Homo sapiens: one gene and its partners. The protein of the gene in region 1 interacts with the protein of each later gene in a biochemical or structural test. Each region holds a gene or a part of one and is shown on either strand. Other genes may lie near its edges.

Region 1 (7,756 bases):
CTAGTTAAGACCAGCCTGGGGCCGGGCGCAGTGGCTCATGCCTGTAATCCCAGCACTTTGGGAGGCCGAGGCGGGCAGATCACGAGGTCAGGAGTTCAAGACCAGCCTGGCCAACATGGTGAAACCCCATCTCTACTAAAAATACAAAAATTAGCCAGGCGTGGTGGCGGGCACCTGTAATCCCAGCTACTCGAGAGGCTGAGGCAGGAGAATTGCTTGAACCCAGGAGGTGGAGGTTGCAGTGAGTTGAGATCGAGCCACTGCTCTCCAGCCTGGGTGACAGGGCAAGACTCTGACTCAGGGGGAAAAAAAAGAACCAGCCTGGGCAGTATAGCCAGACTGTCGTGTCTACAAAAAATTTAAAAAATTAGGCCAGGCGCAGTGGCTGTCACCTGTAATCCTAGCACTTTGGGAGGCCAAGGCAGGTGGATCACTTGAGGTCAGGAGTTTGAGACCAGCCTGGCCAACATGGTGAAACCCATCCTAATAAAAATACAAAAAGAATTAGCCAGATGTGGTATTGTGTACCTGTAGTGCCAGCTACTTGGGAGGCTGAGGAAGGGAGATCATTTGAGCCTGGGAGGTTGAGACTGCAGTGAGCTGTGATCATGCCACTGCACTCTAGCCTGGGCAACAGAGCGAGACCCTGTCTCAAAAAAAAGGAAAGAAATGAAATGAAAAGAAAGGCCAGGCGCAGTGGCTCACACCTGTACCTGTAATCCCAGCATGATGGGAGGCCAAGGTGGGCAGATCTCTTGAGACCAGGAGTTCAAGACTAGCCTGGGTAACATGGTGAACCTCGTCTCGATACAATACAATAGTAAAGGCAAAGTGACATGAGAATCACAAGGAAATATCAGACAAACCCAAACTGAGGGACATTCTACAAAATAACTGACCTATAATCTTCAAAAGTCTACGGTCATGAAAGACCAGAATACTACTACTAATAATAAGAAGAATAAATAACTATTTCAGGCCAGGCATGGTGGCTCATGCCTGTAATCCCAGCACTTTGGGAGGCCAAGGTGGGCGGATCATTTGAGACCAGCCTGGGCAACACGGTGAAACCCCATCTCTACCAAAAATACTAAAATTAGCTGGGCATGGTGACACATGCTTGTGGTCCCAGCTACTCAGAAGGTTGAGGTGAGAGGATCATTTGAGCCTGAGAGGCAGAGGTTGCAGTGAGCCATGACCGCACCACTGCAGTCCAGCCTGGGCGACACAGCATGACACTGCCTCAAAAAAAAAAAAAAAGAAAGAAAGAAAGAAAAAAAGAAGTGCCAGACCTTGAAAATCACAAAAAGCTAATAACTGGTTTAAGATTTAATCTGGAGCCAGCCGAAGTGGCTCATGACTGTAATCCTAGCACTCCGAAAGGCCGAGGTGAGAGGATCACTTGAGCCTAGAAATTTGAGACCAGACTGGGCAACATTAGCTAGAACCCTTCTCTACAAACATTCTAAAAATTAGCCAAGCCAGGCACGGTGGCTCACACCTGTAATCCCAGCACTTTGGGAGGCCAAAGTGGGCAGATCACTTGAGGTCAGGAGTTTGAAACCTGCGTGGCCAACATGGTGAAACCCCATCTTTACTAAATATATAAAAATTAGCCAGGCGTGGTGACGTGTGCCGGTAATCCCAGCTACTTGTAAGGCTGAGGCAGGAGAATCGCTTGACCTGGGAAGTAGAGGTCAAGGTGAGCCGAGATTGTGCCATTGCATTCCAGCCTGGGCACAGAGGGAGACTCCATCTCAAAAAAAAAAAAAAAAATGCTGGGCGCAGTGGCTCACACCTGTAATCTCAGCACTTTGGGAGGCCGACACGGGCGGATCACGAGGTCGGGAGATAGAGACCATCCTGGCTAACACGGTGAAACCCCCTCTCTAATAAAAATACAAAAAATTAGCCAGGCATGGTGGCACACGCATGTAGTTCCACCTACTCAGGAGGCTGAGGCAGGAGACCCGGGAGGCAGAGGTTGCAGTGAACTGAGATTGCACCATTGCACTCCAGCCTGGGCAACAGAGCAAGACTCCGTTTCAAAAACAAAAAAAAAAAATTAGCTAGGCGTGGTTGTGTGTGCTAGGCATGGTGGCAGGATCTGTTGAGCCTAAGAGTTCGAGCCTGCAGTGACCTATGATCTTGCCACTACACTCCACTCCAGCCTGGGCAACAGAGCAAGACCCTGTGCTAGAAAAATAATTCTGCCGGGCACAGTGGCTCACGCCTGTACTCCTAGCACTTTGGGAGGCCGAGGCAGGTGGATCATGAGGTCAGGAGATGGAGACCATCCTGGCTAACACGGTGAAACCCCGTCTCTACTAAAAATACAAAAAATTAGCCAGGCATGGTGGCGGGTGTCTGCAGTCCCAGCTACTCAGGAGGCTGAGGCAGGAGAATGGCGTGAACCTGGGAGGCGGAGCTTGCAGTGAGCTGAGATCGCGCCACTGCACTCCAGCCTGGGTGACAGAGCGTAAGCTTCCACATCGTTTTCCCTCTGTCCCTTTTTTTGGGGGGGTGGGGGTGGGGGCAGGGTCTCTCACTCTGTCACCCAGGCTGGAGTGCAGTGGCACCATCAGAGCTCACTGCAACCTCAACATCCTGGGCTCAACTGATCCTCCTGCCTCAGCCTCCCAAGTAGCTGGGATTACGGACGCATGCCACCACACCCAGCTCATTTTTGTATTTTTGGTAGAGATGGGATCTCACTATGTTGCCCAGGCTGGTCTCCAGCTGCTGGGGTCAAGCAATCAGCCTGCCTCAGCCTCCCAAAGTGCTGGAATCACAGAGGTGAGCCACCACGACCAGCCAGCATCATTTTCCAGTTAAATGTTAATAGTATCTACTTCATATGGCTGCTGTGAGGATTACAGGAGGTAGTGTACATAAAAGTGCCTGGCAAGCCAGGTGCCGTAATCTCAGCACTCTGGGAGGCCAATGTGGGTGGATCACCTGAGGTCAAGAGTTTGAGACCAGCCTGGCCAACATGGTGAAACCTCGTCTCTACTAAAAATACAAAAATTAGCCGGGCGTGGTGGCTGGCGCCTGTAATCCTAGCTACTTGGGAGGCTGAGGTGGGAGAATGACTTGAACCCAGGAGGTAGGGGTTGCAGTGAGCTTGCACTCCTGCCTGGGTGATAGAGCAAGACTCCGTCTCAAAAAAACAAACAAACAAACAAACAAAAAAAAACCAAAAGTGCCTGGCACAGAAGAGATGGTAAGTCTACATTAGTTGAATATGCGTCTATGAACCAGAACAAATCCCAGTCCAGTCCTCCAAGGAAATGCCAACCTCAGTCACTAGAGGGGAATCTCAGTCACACTCTAACTGAGCTTCCAGCAGCAGGAGGTGGCAGCTTGCAGCTCTGATACACCAGCCTTTCCTATGCTGGGAAACTCACTCCCACTCAGCAAACCTGGCTCCATGCTGAACTCCATAGTGTTTTCTCTGAGTCACTATATTCTCCCGCAGTTGCAAAATGATCTGGCAAAAGTCCCTCTAGGGTTTTTACTGCTTACTGAGTAACATCCAAACTCCTTGCCAGAATCCAGAGCCTTCCTAATCTGGCCCCAACCTACCTCTCCAGGCTGAAACCTCATCATTTTTTTACTGCAGCCATGCTGGACAAGTTATGCTTCTGCCTTTATGCCTCAGCTCACCCCGATCCTTCTCCTTCATGCCTTTCTTCAGTCCCTACCTTCTGCAACCCTACTTTTTCTCTTCTTCTTTTTGTTTTTTGTTTTTGAGACGGAGTGTTGCTCTGTCGCCCAGGCTGGAGTGAAGTGGTGCAATCTCAGCTCACTGCAACCTCCTCCTCTCGGGTTCAAGCGATTCTCCTGCCTCAGTCTCCCAAGTAGCTTGGATTACAGGCACGTGCCACCATGCCCAGCTAATTTTTGTATTTTTAGTAGAGACGGGGTTTCACCATGTTGGTCAGGCTGGTCTCAAACTCAGGTGATCTGCCCACCTCGGCCTCCCAAAGTGCTGGGATTACAGGCGTGAGCCACCGTGCCCAGCCCCCCAATTTTTTTTTTTAATTAGCAGGGCGTGGTGGCGCGCACTCGTAGTCCCAGCTCTTTGGGAGGCTGAGGTGGGAGGATCACTTGACCCCAGGGAGGTTGAGGCTGCAGTGAGCAATTATTGCACCACTACACTCCAGCCTGGACGACAGAGAGAGACCCTGTCTCTATAATAAAATAAAAACAGTCTAGGACTCTGAGAGGCATGGAATTAGAAAGAGTCTCTGTGTCAGAAGACACCATTTTGAGTCTCAGCTGTCACTACTAGTGACCTTACCCAAGTTAGTAAACCTAACTCTCAGATTCTCCATCTGTAAAATTTGATCCATTTATTAGAACATTATTTTTAACCTAGGGTGATCCCGGGCCCAGGTTCTGGTGGGCTGCCGCATACATTGGCTGGGTGGCTCTGGTAGGTCACGCCCTGGCCGCTTCGCCATCGAGGGGAGGGTGAGGACAGTCTCCGAGGCGGCGCTGCCGAACCTCCCGGTGACCTGGAGGCCGCGGAGCCCGCAGGGACCCATGGCCCCCGAACCTGGGGCAAGAAGGGCGGGCGCGCGCGGGGCGGGTCACGTGACAGCTCCAGGCCCACGCGGGGCCGGGGCAAGGGCGGGGCCTGGCGCGCGCGGCCCTGCGGGTGACAGGCAGGCGGGAAGGGGCGGGGCCTCGGGCGGGGCCGCCGTGGGGAGGAGGGCGGTGGGAGGGGAGGAGTGGAGATGGCGGCGGCGGCGGCTCAGGGGGGCGGGGGCGGGGAGCCCCGTAGAACCGAGGGGGTCGGCCCGGGGGTCCCGGGGGAGGTGGAGATGGTGAAGGGGCAGCCGTTCGACGTGGGCCCGCGCTACACGCAGTTGCAGTACATCGGCGAGGGCGCGTACGGCATGGTCAGGTGAGGGGGCGTTCCGGGGGAGGGGGTGCCCTCAGGGGAGGGGGCTTCGCGGGAGAGGAGGAGGAGGCGCCGAGCGCTTTCCGGGACGTGGAGACGCGGAGCGTCCCGAGGAGGCAGGAGACTCGGGATGATCGGGAGCGTCCCAGGGAGGGGGCCCCTGAGTGCTTTCTGGGGGAGGGGGCGCTGCCTACGTCCTCAGGGGAGCAGGCTTGGAGGCTTTGAGTCCACCCTTCTGTAATGATGGGAGGGGCATCCGAGTGCATGTGGGGGCCCGCGGGGACCCTAGTGACACGGGGCGAGGCCCAGAGGATGAGTACTCTCGGGGAGGCGACATCCTTAGTGAAGAGGCAGTGGAGGGCCCGTTTTGGGGGAAAGGGTGTCTTGGATTCCCCCTGTGAGGCAGTGCCAGGGAGCCTGGGGGAGAAGAGCCGAGATCAGGGTGGGGCAGGGCTTTGGCCCCACCACCCCAGGGGCCCAGAGAGAGATGAGGCGGCCAGGAGTGCCACCTGCATGTTTTGGGAGGGGTCTGTGAGTGCCCCCGGCCCCACCGTGTGCTCTGGGCCTCTATCCCTCTGGGACAGCCCCGCTGCCCGGATCCCTCACCCTGGGACCCTCCCCTGCCCTGTCCATTCTCTCCTGCCCCTCCCCTGGCTGCCACCTTCCCAGTATTTGCCCCATGGTGTGTCCCCAGCATCTGCACCCCCGGACCTGTCTTGGGTTAAGGAGCCTTTCCTGGGAATGGGGGCGAAGGGTTCAGGGCCAGTAGAATGGAAGGGGATTGAGGAGAGGGGAAGTCAGTGAGCGGTCAGTCTCTTCCTCTGTTTGTAAAGTCACCGAAGGGCCGCCTGGCTGGTCCCCAGCTTTCTCTCTGGAGATCCCAGGCCTCCACAGCAGGAAGGAACCAGCATTGTTTATGATTTGACCAGAGCCAGCTCCTGCTCTCTCCCCTCCCTGCCAAGGCCTGGGTGGGGCCACCAGGCCCGGACTCCCCCTTTGTAAGGCCACAGCAGCAGCCTCTCTCCGGTCCCCTCAGCTCGGCCTATGACCACGTGCGCAAGACTCGCGTGGCCATCAAGAAGATCAGCCCCTTCGAACATCAGACCTACTGCCAGCGCACGCTCCGGGAGATCCAGATCCTGCTGCGCTTCCGCCATGAGAATGTCATCGGCATCCGAGACATTCTGCGGGCGTCCACCCTGGAAGCCATGAGAGATGTGTATCCTTCACCTTGGCCAGTCGGCTGGTCAGGCACGGCCTCGCAGCTGGGCTGGGGACCCGTTGCTTGGTTTCTGTTTCCATCTTACCCACCACCCTCCAAAACAAACCCAGTAAAATAAACTTTCCTGCAGAGGGGAAGCCACAGTGTAACAGGACTTGGAGACCTCTGATGAACCCAGGCCTGCAGCGGCCCAGGCAGTATGGCCTCGAGCAAGTGGGTTCTCTGCTCTGTGCCCCAGGGGGAAGGGCTAGGCAGGATGGTCTCTATGGGAGTGGTGTCTTCTGACGTCGGCAGTTCTGAGACATGACCTGGCCTCTGCCCACAGTCACTTCTTGCTAAGGAATGGATGATTCTTTCCTCTCTTTCCTCCTTGCCCAGACCGGAAGGGAGACAGGGAGAAAGAAAACTGTCAGCTGGGCGTGGTGGCTCACGCCTGTAATCCCAGCACTTTGGGAGGCTGAGGTGGGAGATTACCTGAGGTCAGTAGTTGGAGACCAGCCTGGCCAACATGGTTAAACCCCATCTCTACTAAAAATACAAAAAAATTAGCGGGGCATGGTGGTGCAAGCCTGTAATCCCAGCTACTTGGGAGGCAGAGGTAGGAGAATCGCTTGAACCCAGGAGCTGGAGGTTGCAGTGAGCCAAGATCGTGCCACTGCACTCCAGCCTGGGTGACAGAGCGAGACTCTGTCTCAAAACTAAACAAAAACAAAAAACTGCCTTTCTTGAGGGCCTGCTGTGTGTCAGGTACTATACATGCCCAATGCTTTTTTTTTTCTATTACACCTCCCAACTACCCTATGAGATGGGCTTTTCAGCTTCATTTCAAAGATGAGGGGTGGAGTGCAATGGCTCACATCTGTAGTCCCAACACTTTGGGAGGCTAAGACCAGAGGATCACTGGAGGCCAGGAGTTCAAGACCAGCCTGGGCAGCATAGTGAGACCCCACCTCTACAAAAAATTTAAAAATTATCCAGGTTTGGTGGTACACGACTATAGTCCCAGCTACTTGGGAGGCTGAGGCAGGAGGATGGCTTGAGCTTAGGAGTTCGAGGCTGCAGTGAGCTATGATTGTGCTACTGCACTCTAGCCTGGGGGACAGAGCGTGACCCTGTCAAAAAAAAAAAAAAAAAAAAAGATGAGGAAGCTAAGGCTCAGAAAACCTAAAATCAAGTGTTTCTGTTGCTGTCTCCTCCTCTCCTCCCCCAGATGGGAACTTGTCCTTCTTCTTAGGACTTCTCACTCAGAGCCACACCCTAATCACCTGTGGACTTGCACCTTGCCCAGGGAGGGACAGCCTAGCCTTGGCTGTCCTCCCCCAATACTGCTTTCCTAGTTTGCTGTCCACTTCCTGTCTGGCTCTCCTTAGCAACTTATGACACCTGTCACTTCTTCCCTGCCCCACCCACCCACTCTCAGTCCCAGCCCTCCACCCAAGAGTGGGGATTTGTACTGAGGTGTCTGCAACCCCCACCACAAACTGTGGACAGGAAATCTCCGTGCTCACCCCCAGCTCGCTGTGTGATCTGAAGCAAGTCACTGCGTCTCGCTGGGCCTCCCCAGCCCTAAAACAGCAGGGCTGGTCCACATATTCTCTGAAGACCCTTTCAAGGCTGATTCTTGT
Region 2 (7,658 bases), on another chromosome or scaffold:
AGATGTTGCTGTGGAAGGCAGCTTCAGTCGGCCGGGGAGATCAGCTGCCTTCTGGCTGGCCTGTCCTACAGACGTCCCACAAACCTGGCCAGCCCACCTCTGCATAAGCCATTCCTTGCCATGAGTCTCTAATGTGTATCTCCACCTGCTTCTGTTTCTCTGGATGAAGCCTGTCCACTACAGGTTTTGACAGAGATTTAAAATCTCCTGTAGAGACTATTCCAGCTACTCGCCTGGCATTTCTGCTCAGCTGGCATTAGGGCCTGTGGCATGAGCACTCTTCCCTTAAACAGCTCCAGAGCTTCCTTCACGGGTTCCAATGGGCCAACAGAAGTGTCTTACTACTTAATGGCCACTTATTTAAAATTATCCCAAGAGTAATTAGAGGCCAGGCGCGGTGGCTCATGCCTGTAATCCCAGCACTTTGGGAGGCCGAGGTGGGTGGATCACTTGAGGTCAGGAGTTTGAGACCAGCCTGGCCAACATGGTGAGGCCCCATCTTTACTAAAAAACAAAAACAAACAAAAAAACGCAAAAATCAGCCAGGTGTGGTGGTGCGCCCCTATAGTCCCAGCTACTGGGGAGGCTGAGGCAGGAGACTGTTTTGGATCCAGAAGGTGGAGGTTGCAGTGAGCCGAGATTGCACCACTGCACTCCAGCCTGGGTGACAGAGCAAGACTCTGTCAAAAAAAAAAAAAAGAAAAAGAAAAGGAGTAATTAGAATATTTTCTTTTCTTTTTTATTGACAACTAAGAAAGCTAAGGAGAAGATGATGAACAAAGACGGATGACAGTAGCCTTATGGTGAAATCATTCTTGAAAGGAAACCTGTGTGGGACATCTCTGGGTACACTCACTCATCATTGGGGTGGAATTTTAAAAGGAGGAACGAGGAGCACCTTTGCAAGGCATCCTTCTCACCACGGCGGTGCAGAGCAGCAGTCAGGCGCTGGTGCAGACTCCCCGGATGGAATCCCGCCTCTTCTTGTGTGCCCTTAGAGTAACTTAACCTCTCTGGGCCTTGTTTCCTCAACAGTAAAAAATGAAGATATGAATAGGATGGTGACATCCAGTGAGGGCATCCTAGGGCCGTCCCGACTGTTATCCGAGGTGACAAACCGCTCTCAAAAGAGAGTCTGGCAACGTGCAAGCAGTCGATAAACACTCCCAGGCGACAGAAAAGGCACAGAGGCAGCTGCTCATCTTAAGCATGTCATATTTTTAAAGAACTTGGAGGAGGATTAAAAGTCAAACAAAATAACTTACAATTAACATTTACAAATTCAGGCAGAAATAGAAACATCACAAGAAAGTTTGGTCTCTTGTTTTTTTTTTTTCTTTTTTCCCCAGCGTTTCGTGGCTACCTTTAATCAGCGCACACAGCTAGGACCACCACTGACCAAACTCAAACCCGACGTTTTAAATCATGGAGGAGCCATGAGCTACCAGGTGTAAAACAAGCGACGTGTCTTACACTTTCTTATCTTTGGGCAGAACTGTGATACTTCTGGAGGATTTTCAAAGAGGATTTGAACAAAATAGCTTTGTTTAACCCGGAGTTAGTAGAAGTGGTTGTTTCAGAACAGTTAACTCCCTGGGAGTTACTCCAGCATTTACAGCAATTTTTAACTGTGTTCTTTTCCCTCAGATTTCTGTTTTTCCCACAAAAAAAAAAAAAAAACAAAACCTCAAAAAACAAAACACACACACGCGCGCACGCACGCGCACACACACACACACACACACACACACACACACACCCCCTCTGCCGCGGTACCCTTCCCCTGGCCTTCCTCCACTGAAGGGCGGCTGGGTTCCAGGCTCTCAGCCGTGACCACAGCCCCGGCCCCAACCGCTAAGGAGGTGCTCATCACTGGAGGTGGCCGCCAGGGAGCTCAGTGCGGGACCTGCTCAATCCATACGGTCCCCTGACTTGAGGGTGACCGTCCTTAAACTGTCCCCCGGAGCTTCGCCAGATAAAATGTCCAAAACACACACTGGAGTTCCCTGACGTTTCCTTCCTCTGAAAAACTCTCTTTCCAGGCGGGGCGTTCTGTGGTCAGACGAGGCAGAGGCCTCCCCGGAACGAAGTCCACGCCCCCTCCCCACCCCAGCACCCAGCGAGCCCACGCGCCCCTCACCCACGCGCAGAGAAACCGAGCACTTGTTGATTCTCACGTTGTTGCAATTGGAAAACGGAACAAGGAACCAGAGCTCGCCTGTTTCCAGCCAGAGTCGCACGGGGGTCCCCAAAGACGCTTGAACCTTTTCCCAAGCCCCACTCCACCTTCCAAAACGGGGGGGCTCAGGTGGACGCGAAAGGACACAAGGCGCTGCCCCCAGCACCCCGGAAAATCTAGTGTGGCGGCAAATGACCGCAGGTCACACACCCCGGCCTCGGGGGCCACGGAAAACGGACGCACCCGGCCCAGGACAGGCAGTGGGGCCCAGGAGGGGACTGCCGGGAAGACCCGGGCGGGCCGGCGGGCGGCTGCGGGCGGCGCACGTGGGCCCAGGTGGGCGCAGCGACGGGCCCGGCCGAAGAGCCCGAGACAGGCCCTGCGAAGGCGGAAGCCCGGACCCGGGCTCTCCTGGCCGCCCCTGGAGCTCAGAGGGAGACTGCGCTTCGCCCCGGGGGCAGGGGCAGGAGCGCGATCGCGCGCGGGGCCCCCGGGGTGTGATTAGCAGGCGCCGCGAGCCGGGAGGACCCCCCAGCCCGCCCTGGCAGCCAGCACCCTCTCCACACCCGCCCAGAGTGGCCGCTTTTGACCGCCGTCCCCTCCCACCCTAGACTCCTCCCCTCAGCCCCACGGCCCGAGGCCGAGCGGTTTCAGCGACCCTGGGACCGCCGGGCCTGGCTGGAGTCCACCCCTGGACACCTGTCAGGGTCGGGCCCCGGCGCTGTAAACCCGCGTCTACACCCGCGCCCAGCCCCCGCGCAATGGGGATCGGGGGCGGCGACTTGGGTTCGGGTCAGGGAGGCCGCCGGCTGCTACCTGCTCGGCCACCTGCTCCGCTGCCTAGGTTCTCCCTGCGCGTCCCCAGCCAAGAAAGGGACCCGGAGTCCGGGCGTCGGGATAGCTCCTGTCCCCGATCTTGCGCCCCCGGCTCCCGCGGGGCTCCGGTCCGGGGTCCCGCCCAGGTCTCCGCGGTCCCCACTCGGAGGGGCACAGAGACAAAGGCGGCAGAGCAGCCCGCCCGTCCCCGAGGGTCACCCACCGGCGCTGCGCTCGTTGCTCCGAGGCCGAGGGGCGCCGCGGGGTCCAAGGCCCTGCTCCGCCTGCCCAGGCCCGGGCAGGCTGGTCTCGGCTTCAAGCGCCCACGCGCGGGGTCCCCGGGCAGCCTGCTTCGCCTTCCGGGGTCGGGAGACAGGGGCCGCCGGGGCCGGAGGCTGCTTCTCTCTGGCGCGCGGCGGCGGTGACTGACGGCGGCGGCTCCGAGGGACGGGCGCGCACCCAGCTCCCCGGCCCCGCCTCCCCGGGCTTCCTGCGAGCCAGGTAAACACAGGCCGATCCCGCCGGGCCCGCCCCACCTGGACGCGGCCGCCGGCGCCGCCCCGGGAGCTCGGAGGACCCCGGGCCCGCTCTGCCCACGCGGAACTTGGGGGGCGCACGGGGCCCACGCGCAGGGTCAGACCTCGGAGGGGCGGCCTGGAGCCTCGCCCGCTGCCGAACTGGGCTCCGAACTGCGGCCCGTCGACCCTTCCCGTTCGGAGGCTTGGCCTCCGAACCCACCCCGACCCCGACCTCGACCTCGCGGGAGGGGTGCCAGGCCGCATCTCCCCGCGTCCTCAGGGGCTGGAAACCCCAGAAACTGCCGATAGACTTGGCGCAGCCCCGGCCCTGCAGGAGGAGAGTCAGCCCGGCCTGGAGGCGAAAGGAGCCGGCAGGTCCTCCCAAGGCACTCCCTCCCTCCCCTGGAGCCCAGGCCAGGCCCATGTCCGGCTGGCAGGTGCTCCTCTGGGAGCTGGGAGCTGGGAGCTGGGAGCTAGGGGCGCACCTTCTCCTGCAGGACCGGCGCAGGAAGCGTGCGCGGAAAAGACAGCAAAACACGCGCAGGTGCGAGGAAGCAGCCTGGTCCTGCAGCCCAGAGACATCGTGGTCTTCGTCGCTGTCTTGTTAAAAAGAAAAAGCCTGCTGTTTAGCCGTGACTCACCTGCACACAGATTTAGTGGTCAGAGATCTTTCTCTGGATTCTCAGCCTCCTGATGGTGGAAGAGGAGGAGGTTGGGGGAGTCCCAGAATGAGGCCCCGCGTTCCTCCTGACCTACACCCCCAGTCAGGGATCTGGATCTGGAGCTTCCAGGGGACCTGGAGCAGCCTGGGACCCACACAGTTTGTTAGGAAGTGAGGGAGAGGGGTGAGCGCTGTCCCGGCCCGCGCTGGGAGGCGGGACTCAGACTTCAGCACGGGGTCGGGGTTTCGGCCTAAAACCAGCCTCCCCCAAAGCCCCGGAGGATTTAGCAACTGTCTTCAAATGCTGGCAACTGGAAGAGAAATACTTCCACAACGACGCAAAAGCATTCAGTCTGGTCGTTTCCTCAGGAGAGATTTTCAAGTGGAGGGGGCAGGAGGGTTCTGAGACTTTGAGGCTGAAGGTGAGGAGGGAAAAGGGTGCCAAAGATAGTGTGTTTCTCCAATTTTTCTGCCCCACAACCTCACTTTAAGTCAAGGATGAGCGGAGTGGGCGTGGGAGGCTGGACAGCTGCCCTAGGAGCACGGGTGGTGACAATGAACCCGGGTGCACCCAGGTCCCAGCTCAAGTCACTCAAAGCTCAGGCTGGGGAAGCTGGAACACTAAAATGGGTCCCATTTTAGATACCTGCTTTAGCATCAGAAACAGCTTTTCCTCCCCAAAATATCTCTTGGCTTTATCTCAGTGACTCCACAGGGCGGGGCCACCTTCCTGCCTGCAGATGTCCCTGTGTGCTGGGCTCTGGAGCGTCCCTCAGGCCACAGTGACAGCTGCACACGCGGCCTTCTGTTTGGTGCTCCTTCTGCTGGTGTTACAGTGGTTTCCTGAAACACTACATATGCCAACAGTCAGCCCTACAAATGTCAGGCTCCACAAGTTCCAGTTAAAAGTCTTTTTAAAGTATTTATGAAATTTCACCGTGCATATTTTGTTGGGATAGAGTGTCCACACAGATGGGCAGCCAGGCAGTTTAGAAAAGTCATGGATTCTTCAAAGAAAACATGTAGATAATACTATTTAATAAAACAGTGGATTCACATTTGGATCAACTGGTCTTATCTTGGGGGCTTTCATGCCCTCCCGGTTAGAAAAAGGACCCCAGGTTGAGGACAGTGGATGGAAGAAACAGAGGCTGGCATTTCACTGTCGAGAGACAAACTTTCACATGAAGATGTCCATGTAGCCCTCAGCAAAGTGACAGAGATTCGTTGTGCTGAATAAAATTGAAAGGCATCTTTTGACAAGTAACCCATCAAAGCCTCATTGTGTCTTTGACATTTCTAAGAAAATCACATTGCAGTTACCCCCATCTTTCACAAGGTACCGGAGAGCAGAAAGTTTGACCTATCCATCATCTCATATGGCAGCAAATAGCAAAATGTTTTGTGCATGAAATACACTCAATAAATTTTTGTTAAGCTGAATTAAACTCCAAATTACCCAAGCTAAAGGAAGTAAATGAATCTAAATAGTTTCCAACAGACCTCAGACTGCACGAACTTTGAGTTTTCTTTAGTTTCCTCATCAACAGATTTGTCTTTGTTATGATGTTTTGCTTAGGAAAGGACTGAACTTTTTTTTTTCTTTCTTTTTTTTTTTTAGATGGAGTCTTGCTCTGTGGCCCAGGCTGGAGTGCAATGGTGCAATCTCAGCTCACTGCAACCTCCGCCTCCCAGGTTCAGGCAATTCTCCTGCCTCAGCCTCCCGAGTAGCTGGGATTATAGGCAACCGCTACCATGCCCAGCTAATTTTTGTATTTTTAGTAGAGATGGGGTTTCACCACGTTGGCCAGGCTGTTCTCGAACCGCTGACCTCAGGTGATCCACCTGCCTGGGTCTCCCAAAGTCCTGGGATTACAGGCCTGAGCCACCACGCCCGGCCAGGACTGAATATGATTTTCAGACCTGGTCTAAACCTCTCTGAGCCTCAGTCTCTTCATCTGCAGTGTGGAGGTAATAGTCATCCTCATATCAGGGCTGAACACTCTCTTTCTGCAGCTCAGGCATCGGTGGATACCCAGGTGTGGAGGTCTCCCTCATTCATCCAGGGGTTGATCACAGTTGTTTCCAAACAAGTGGTACTTCAGAGGAATTCTGGGCTGGCTCTTCAGACGTTACATCTATTCGCTCTGTTGCAATATATATTCACAACCTCGCCAGTGGGGCTTACTTCCCACGTGAGGGTGTATTAGTCAGCTCAGCTGCTATAACAAAATACCACAGACTGGATGGCTTAAAAACAGATGTTATGCCAGCTCTGGAGCCTGGAAGTCCAAGATGCAGGTGCTGGCGGACTTGGCGTTGGGCGAGAGCTTGCTTCTTGATTCATAAACAGCACCTTCTCTATGTGTGTCGGGTGGTGGAGGGAGAGAAAGAGGAAGGGGAGGAGACTGGGCTGTGGCCTCTTTTTCTTATAAAGACACTAATCCCATTGTGAGGCCACCCTCACGGATTCAATCTAAGCCGAACTATCTTTCAAAGACCCCATGTCCAAATACCATTCCCTGGGGGTTGCGGCTTTGACATATGAATTTTGGGGGGATAGATGTGCAGTCCTTAATAGAGGGTTAGATTAAGACATAGGGAAAAAAAGGAATGAATACTCAGCTTCCAATCTAGTTAACAGAGTTCCCTGCGGGGGGTGGTGGAATGAGTGCCAGCCTCCCCAGGAGCTGGGAAGGAGCTGGACTGGGCAGGAATAGAGTGAGGGATAGGAGAGCCTTAGCCAGGTCTGTGGGGTGGGTGGGGGTTGTGTGTGTGCTGGACTTTGTGCTACATTTGATGCTCCTATAACAAGGGGATTAAATGTGACATCTTAATAACCAGCCCCAGGAAGCAGCCCGAGAGGACGGGAGGGTTGCCGGGAAGTCCAGAGCATGCACAGTGTGAATGTGCATGGGAGCCATGGCAGACCCCAGAGGGAGCCAGGAAAGGCTGTGAGGAGACAGCGGCCCTGTTGCAGGGGTGGGGTCAGCAGCCAGCTCTGAGGGAGGGAGACGGGCCCTGGAGGGAGGGGCTCAGAGGCAGGGTGAGTGGGAACCAGGAGGGCTTGGCCCTGGCTTTGGGGACCTCCCACTTCTGACCCAGACCTGCCTCCACGGTGCCCCTCCTGCCTCCACGTTCTTCCTGTACCAGGCTTCCTTTCTCTGGAGTTTGTCCTCAAAGGTGGAAAAACTGTGTTTCTACAGTGAAAGTTCACTGTTAAGGGTTGAACTGTGTCCCCGAAGAGAGAACTCGAAGTCCTGACCACCTAATACCTGGGAAAGTGACTGTGCTTTGAAATAGCCTTTGCTAGTGTCATCAGGTGGAGATGAGGTCCTTGGGGGGGTCCGGTGCGGTGGCCATGTCCTTGTAAGCAGAGGGGACACTCAGAGGGAAGAGGCCACATGGAGACAGAGGCAGAAGTGAGAGTCATACATCCCGGAGCTGAGGGATGCTGGGGGCAGCAGAAGCTGGGAGAGGCACG
Region 3 (7,484 bases), on another chromosome or scaffold:
ATCCTGTAAGATTATTTTTGAGTAGGGGGTATAAAGTGAATCAGCCCATTCATCCTGCCTCGCATAGACTAGACATAACTGTGTCTGATTGGATTACTGAGGCTACTAATACCAGCCTTCTATCTATCTCTTTTTTCATTTATGTGGGAACCTGATTGTAAAGATACAGTAAATTAAGCACCTTAGAAATAAAACTGTGAATTATGTATTTATCATCACTTTTACTGCAATAATAGCCACTAGTCTTCCTTCAAGTACTAGATAATATGTATTCTTGCTAAAATAACTTCATTTCTCAAAATGCAGGTCTTCCACTGAGCTAAAATAAGTAACTATTCAGAATAATATCTATTGCCAACGGAAAGAGTTTTGAACTGGCAGAGTCAAGACAAATAGAGTTCTTTTTCTCTTTGAAGACAAGTTGGTTTCACTGGACTTATTTTTGTCCTCCAGCCTTTGGGGCCTCATTCCAGATTCTAGCCAGTGTCTGTCTTCTTATTTCAAGAAGGCTGTTAAACCTGTAACAGATGATACATTGATGTGAGTCACATGCCCTGAAAAGCCATAATTCTGGTGAGGGTTACTAGGAGTGAAATTTCATTGGTGAGATTCCAGAATCACTGACCCTGCAGCAGTAGTCTATAGAAAGATGGTGGGTAAATGGTAAAATTAGAAATGTCAGTGGAGAGCTTACCCATCATTAATCTTTTCTAAGTCTTCCCTGACTCATTCACCAGAGGCTTTGATTGACTGACCAAAGGCAAAATATACAACTTTTAGTTTCACATATACAGCTTTGCTCTGTAACCAGAGTCCTGCCAAAATTGGCTCAGAACTGCAGCCAGAAGGGTTTGAGATACAAAGATTGCCTCATCTCATAAAGATTTGTGACACAGAGTTTTCTTCTTTCACAGGAAGGATCCATTTGGAATGGGTCAAATGCAAGAGGATAGTTCAAATGACCTCTTAAACATGGCCAGTGACAGTTACAGAACTCTAAATGGTGTTTAATCTACTTACAAGCATTTTATATTAAGTCACCCTTAAATGGGAACATACTCATTGAAAATCAAAGTGAGTCCTTCATCATTAGGGTTCTTGGAGTCCAGTGGGATAGAAAAAAGCAAAATCATCATATAGTATGGTATATAAAATTATATGAAAATGTGTGGAAGAACAAGTACAAAATGAAGTGGCTAGAAAAACTAGAAAACCATTTTTAAAAGCCAAGGGAAGGCCGGGCACAGTGGCTCACGCCTGTAATCCCAGCACTTTGGGAGGCTGAGGCGGGCAGACCACGAGGTCAGGAGTTCGAGACCAGCATGGCCGATATGATGAAACCCCGTCTCTACTAAATATACAAAAATTAGCCAGGTGCAGTGGTACGCTCCTGTAATCACAGCTACTCAGGGTGCTGAGGCAGGAGAATCGCTTTGAACCCAGGAGGCGGAGGTTGCAGTGAGCCAAGATTGCATCACTGCACTCCAGCCTGGGAGACAGAATGAGACTCCGACACACACACACACACACACACACACACACACACCACACACGCGCGCGCGCGCACCAAGGGAGAGACTGTATGGTGGCAATAGCCTCTATAGCCTCTGGAAGAGCCATTGGCCAGGAATGGAAAGGGAAGGCACTTGGCACTGCTGGCTTGAGGGAATATCTTCTCTCAAACTTCTTTTTGATTCTGGGGAGCTCCCATACGTGCTTGTGTTTGAGTATCTTCCTGCTCCAACTCTGCCATTTACTGTTTTCCTCATCTGATAATGTGAAAGTAAGAGGTGTGTCTCAGAACTATTAGGAGGATTTAAAATGAGATCACATGTGATATGTATGGCATAGTATCTTGCCTATTTTATAAGGCTTCTGTAAGCCCAGCCCTGGAAGAGAAGCCTCTCTCCAAATCCACCACTTCCAGGTGGATTATCCATCCCACAAAAGCAACTCAGGTCATCACAGTGACACAGGCCTCAGTTAAGGTTTACATGAAAATACTAAAGGCCATAAGACTGCTGAGTATTTGGAATTCCCCATCTAGATTATTGCCCAAAGGGACCACATTTTAGCATGGTTTGCGCAGTGGGGGCACCCAGAGACCTGGCTGCTAGAACAAATTCCCTGCCCTCTGAGTATGTAACTTTGGGCAAGAGTCCCTTGTTCAACTCCTCTTACTTGGTTACTGAGGTGATAATCAGTCTCCCTCAACATGTGTCACTATTATCTATCATATGCCTGGCACTATGCCAGGGTACAGGATATGGCCCTCTGCCTTCTAGGAGCACATGGTCTGGTAGAAGTGGAAAGACACAGACCTGAATAACTGACATAAGGCAGAATAAGGTGAGTGTTGCGATGGAAGCACAGAGTGCTGTGGTAGCACAGAGGAAGGAATGATTACCATAAAAAGGAGAATTAGGGACCTGTAATACCTTTGTAGAGTGAAAAGGCTTCTTGTGGACTTTGTGTAAGGTGTTGATGTATCAAGGAAGCGTTCCACAGGGAGGTGAGTAATGCAAGACCAGGGCTGAAGTTTAGACTACACAGGACATGTTTAGGGATGAGTGAGTAGTTCTGTGAGCGAGACAGGAGGATGCCGGGGTAGAGGGAAGTTGGAACGTAAGCTAGTGGGTTCTACAGAGGAAGGGCTTTGATCTGCTGATCAGAAGGTTTGGGCCAAGCCCAGGAAAAGGGATAGCAGCAACATACGTTTGTTTATTCATTTGCTTACTTACAACAAACGTTTATTCATTATTTATAATGCAACAAGCATTAACCTAGGTGCTAAGGAGAGAAAAATGAGTAAGACACAGTTTCTTTCCTCAAGGAAATCACAGTCTGTTGGCAGAGATAAGTAGTAATGGTGCCTAATATAGGTAACACTTGCTACCTGCTCCAAGAACAAAGTTAAGCAAGTGATTAAGTTAAGCAATGCTTAGAGGTAGAGGATGTAAGAATGGCCTTAAAAAATGTGTCTTCTGAGATGAGTTTGAAGGATAAATGGAGTAGGAACTTGCCAGATTGAGGTAAGAAGCCTTCCAGACACAGCCCAACAATGCAGCAAAGCCCAATGCTTGACTAACTGGGGCACACAGGGAACACTGCAAAGTTTGGTTTGGATCCTAGAGTGGAAAAGGGAACTAAAGAGAAAAGATTGGTGAGATGAGTTGGGATAAACCTAGGAGTTTGGGCTTAATCCTGAAGCATTGAGGCGGTGTTGAAAATGTTTACACTGGGAAGTTAGGAAAGTAAATATTAGTAGGATGGAAGGATCAGAGAGGCCCTGGGCAGAAATCATAATGTGGGTGACTCCCAGGTTTCTGGCTTGAGTAACTGTTGCCATTCCCAAAATAAGAGAGGCAGGAGGAGAAGAGTTCCAGAGGAAGATGATGAGTTCATTCTTGAGTATGTTGAAGGTTATTGCAGGGTGCCTGTGATGCTCTTGCAACCCCATCCCCACCTTGAAATCCTTCAGAGGCTCCCCGTTCCCTTTAGTCCTGGCCTGGCCTCCAGTGTCTTCTCTCAGCCCTGCCTTCTAATGTGCTTGCTGCAGCCTGAGCAGCTTCGAGTTTCTAGAACTTGCCAGGTTGTGTTCTACATCTTTGAGCCTTCAACTAGAACACCATTTCCCTTCTCCTGCCTTCTGCCTGGCCAGTTGTGGCTCATCCTTCCAGACTCACTCAAGATAAAACATCTCTGAAGGAGGCTTCCCTGACATTGTCTACCACCACCCCCAGCAAGGGCTGATACCAACTGTCAGCAGCTACATACTCACCCCTACTTGACTGTAATGATTTGCATCCATGTCATCTCCTGCCCTACTGTGACATTCCCAGACCACCCCTCACTGGGCAGGTGGCATCTCTGTATCCCTTTTGCCTGGCCCAGATGGAAATTAGGACATCAGTAAATGTAAAATGAACAAATCCAGATGGGAGCATCCAACAGAGAGTTGGAAATTCCAAAAAAAGCAAAATGAAAGGCACCAAAAAAATGCATACAACATTAACACCTTATGTCTACCATTCGCTCCCCCCGCCACCCCCGTCCTCTTCCCTAAGCACTACATTATCTAAAGCCTAGATGTTCAATCATCCAAGCCCATGGCTGTTGGCTTGGTTATGTGTCTGGAATGGAACAGAAAGGGAGGAGGAGTGCAGAGGCCCAAGGAGGAGCATCAGTGAAGGTTTGGAGACTGACCTGGAATTCCTAGCCATCATGGTGGGTACAGTTTACATGAGAGGAAGCCTGGCTTTACACACCTGTTTCCTCTTTCTAAGCTCTGGCCCCTATTTTCTAACACCATCTGGTGGCCACATCTGTAAATAACAAACTCCTCAGGAGCTGAGAGAGCTTCTATAAGGCAAAAGGTCCAGGGATTGGCCTCAGAGGGCTATTATGTATTACAGCCCCAACAAGTTTATATGTATACGAGATTTGCCTTTTCTGATGAGACACTCCAAGAGCTTTTGACCAGAATCTTAAAAACTCCTATAGCCTCCAAAAGGCTTAGAATCCCTGCTACAAAGGATTGATTCTTTTTTTCCCCAAGTGAAATCCTATGAAGAATCATACACAAGCTAAAGAAGCAGACCTAAATCCCTGCTTGCTCAGAACCTCACCCTCCAATTTCCCAAAGCACTTACAGAGAACCTGGAATCTAGTTTGAAAACCACTCTTGTGAAACGAAGGGCTTGTAGAGCATCGGGGCCAGATGGGCCCTTAGAAATCATTGTGACGTACTAGGTCCCACCTGAGAGAGGAGGCTTGGTGATACACACAGCACGTATCAGTAGCAGTACTGGAACCTAACACAAGTCTCCCCTCTTGTTTCTCTTCTCTTTTTACTGCTTGCCTTATTGCCCAAAACCTAAATTTAAAAATGTACTAATCAAAACTTTTTCTATATATAGTTCCCAAACAGGAAACCATTCTTCATATAGATTTCTAGGTCTCTGGAAAGAGATCTTTCCCCTCAAAATGCCTCTTAACCAACCATAAATCATGGTAGAAAATAAATCTAGAGCTTACGTTTGAATAGTTTGTTGTTTGTTTGTGTTGGGGCGTGTGTTTTTTTGAAACAGGGTCTCATTCTGTTTACTAGACTGGAATGCAGTGGTGCGATCATAGCTCACTCTAACTTCGAACTTCTGGGTTCAAGCGATCCTCCTCCCTTAGCCTCACCAGAAGCTAGGACTACAGGTGTGCAGCACCCTGCCCAGCTAGTTCTTTTTTTTTTTTTTTTGGTGGCAATGGAGTCTTATTGTGTTCCCAGGCTGGTCTTGAACTCCTGGCCTCAAGTGAACCTCCCACCTCAGCCTCCCAAAGTGCAGGGATTACAGTCATGAGCCACTGCACACTGCACCTGACCCAAATAATTCTTTTCAACTTACAACATCAATACCCATGGGCTAGTTTCACAGTGGCAGAATAGACTCAGAGAGGTAAAATGACTTGTTTGCTGTTTCCTGTCATCAACTTAAAGGTTCTTTCCACTGTCTCACAACATTTGTGTTCGAATGTGCATATTCTGCGGTACTTAAAACAGTGAACAAATAGGCAATCCATCTGGCTTATTGATACTTGTTCAGGGAGTGGGGGTTATAACCCCTGCTATTAACTGCCATTTGGAGATGGGGGACGGATGAAGTCTAACATTGTTTAAACATTCATATACTAGAGTCTGAACAACCTTCAAAATATGCTTTTAGTCACCATTTTACAGATGCCTAAACCAAAGTATAGAAAGAGAAAGTGCTTTGCCTCAAGGTCACACAGCTAGTAATTGTCTCACCCTCCTGCCCTTTCCCTTCTTTCTCTTTTAGGAGTGCCAGCTTCTCTCAGGGCACCAGAGCCTCTTTTCTCATGAGGAGTGACACAGCTGTACAAAAACTTGCCCAGGGCAATGGACACTGTGTCAACGGGATCAGTGGTCAAGTCCATGGCTTCTATAGCCTTCCCAAGCCGAGCCGGCACAATACAGAATTCAGAGACAGTACCTACGACCTCCCCCGCAGCCTGGCCTCCCATGGCCACACCAAGGGCAGCCTCACAGGCTCCGAGACAGATAATGAGGATGTGTACACCTTCAAGACGCCCAGCAACACCCTGTGCAGGGAGTTCGGGGACCTCCTGGTAGACAATATGGATGTTCCGGCCACCCCACTCTCAGCCTACCAGATCCCTAGGACATTCACTCTGGACAAAAACCACAATGCCATGACAGTGGCCACTCCTGGGGACTCAGCCATAGCTCCCCCACCCCGCCCCCCCAAGCCAAGTCAGGCAGAAACACCTCGATGGGGCAGTCCTCAGCAGAGACCGCCAATCAGTGAAAATAGCAGATCTGTCGCTGCCACCATCCCCAGACGCAACACCCTCCCTGCAATGGACAACAGCCGACTTCACCGAGGTCAGTATAAGTCCTAGCTGAGACTCAGAGGGAGGAGGAGGTAACACAGGGGTTCTCAATAGTTTGATGGTCCTTGGTCATCCATGGCCGAGGGGAACTTACGAACCACCTAGGTCACTGATACTCAAAAACATAGGTGTCTTCTACCCAGATCCCTTACCAGTTGGTCCTCCAGCACTGGAGGCTGTTAGTAGTAGTTGTCTAACAGAGCTAGCCCCAGAGAAGTTAATGTTCTACTAATGGAGAATAGGACATTCTTGATTAACCACAGTATAACATATTATGGGTTTAGAAGCCCAAATCATTGTATTTTATTCATTTGTAAATCAAATCAAAGATTTAAAAAATAAATTCAGAAGATCAGTCCAAACTGGAGTGAAACCTGTGTGGACTAACAGACTGCTAAAGCAAAACGAGGTCTTAATATTTTCTAAATCATACTTGAATCTCTTTGGTTGAAGTCAAAACTTTTATTTGAAGTACCTAAATTCTATTGTTACTTGTTTTCCACTGAGAGTATTCCAACTCTGCATGTAACCTCCTCTGTATGATGAAAAAATAGAACAATATTAATTCCTTTCATTTTGCATCTTGCTTTATGGTTTGCAAAGCCTTTTCTTGTCCATCCTGTTGTTTAAGCCAGGCAGAGAGGTTGGTGGGACAAAACCTCCTTGTCTCCATCTCACATGAGGCCAATGACAGTTAAGAGACTTAAATAGAGTTGCAGAGTCATTGTGCCAGAGATGAGACTCAGACCCTAGAGTCCCAGCTCCTAGTTTAGACCTCTTTGCCGTCTTTCAATCCATCGACAATTTGAGCAGTCATACTCCGTTTTGGAACTGAGATGATAAAGACATACATAAAACATGTTCCTGCCCTTCAGAGCTTACATCTCATTGGGAAAATAAAACCAACACATATAAATCAGGACAAGTATTGTTACTGTGGTGTTCAGAGAAGTGATGGCTGGGGTGAGCAGGACAGGTGAGTGGTGTAGGAGTCAAAGGAGAGGTGCATAGATGAGGGTAGAGTAGTCAAGGACAGCTTCTCTGCAGATGCTAACACT

The links.
Region 2: of the proteins of MAPK3 (region 1) and MBP, one has a biochemical effect on the other in vitro, tested with the Homo sapiens proteins (5 studies listed by BioGRID).
Region 3: of the proteins of MAPK3 (region 1) and GAB2, one has a biochemical effect on the other in vitro, tested with the Homo sapiens proteins (2 studies listed by BioGRID).

The regions. Positions count from the first base shown.
Region 1 is NC_000016.10:30,120,196-30,127,951, reverse strand, and holds the start of MAPK3 (mitogen-activated protein kinase 3), read left to right. Parts: upstream 1-4,731; 5' UTR 4,732-4,742; coding exon 4,743-4,912; intron 4,913-5,945; coding exon 5,946-6,128; intron 6,129-7,756.
Region 2 is NC_000018.10:77,129,362-77,137,019, forward strand, and holds the start of MBP (Golli-MBP), read right to left. Parts: upstream 3,423-7,658; 5' UTR 3,219-3,422; exon of another isoform or gene 1-3,218. UniProt on the Homo sapiens protein: The classic group of MBP isoforms (isoform 4-isoform 14) are with PLP the most abundant protein components of the myelin membrane in the CNS. They have a role in both its formation and stabilization.
Region 3 is NC_000011.10:78,225,399-78,232,882, reverse strand, and holds part of GAB2 (GRB2-associated-binding protein 2), read left to right. Parts: exon of another isoform or gene 1-518; intron 519-5,831; coding exon 5,832-6,418; intron 6,419-6,701; exon of another isoform or gene 6,702-7,484. UniProt on the Homo sapiens protein: Adapter protein which acts downstream of several membrane receptors including cytokine, antigen, hormone, cell matrix and growth factor receptors to regulate multiple signaling pathways.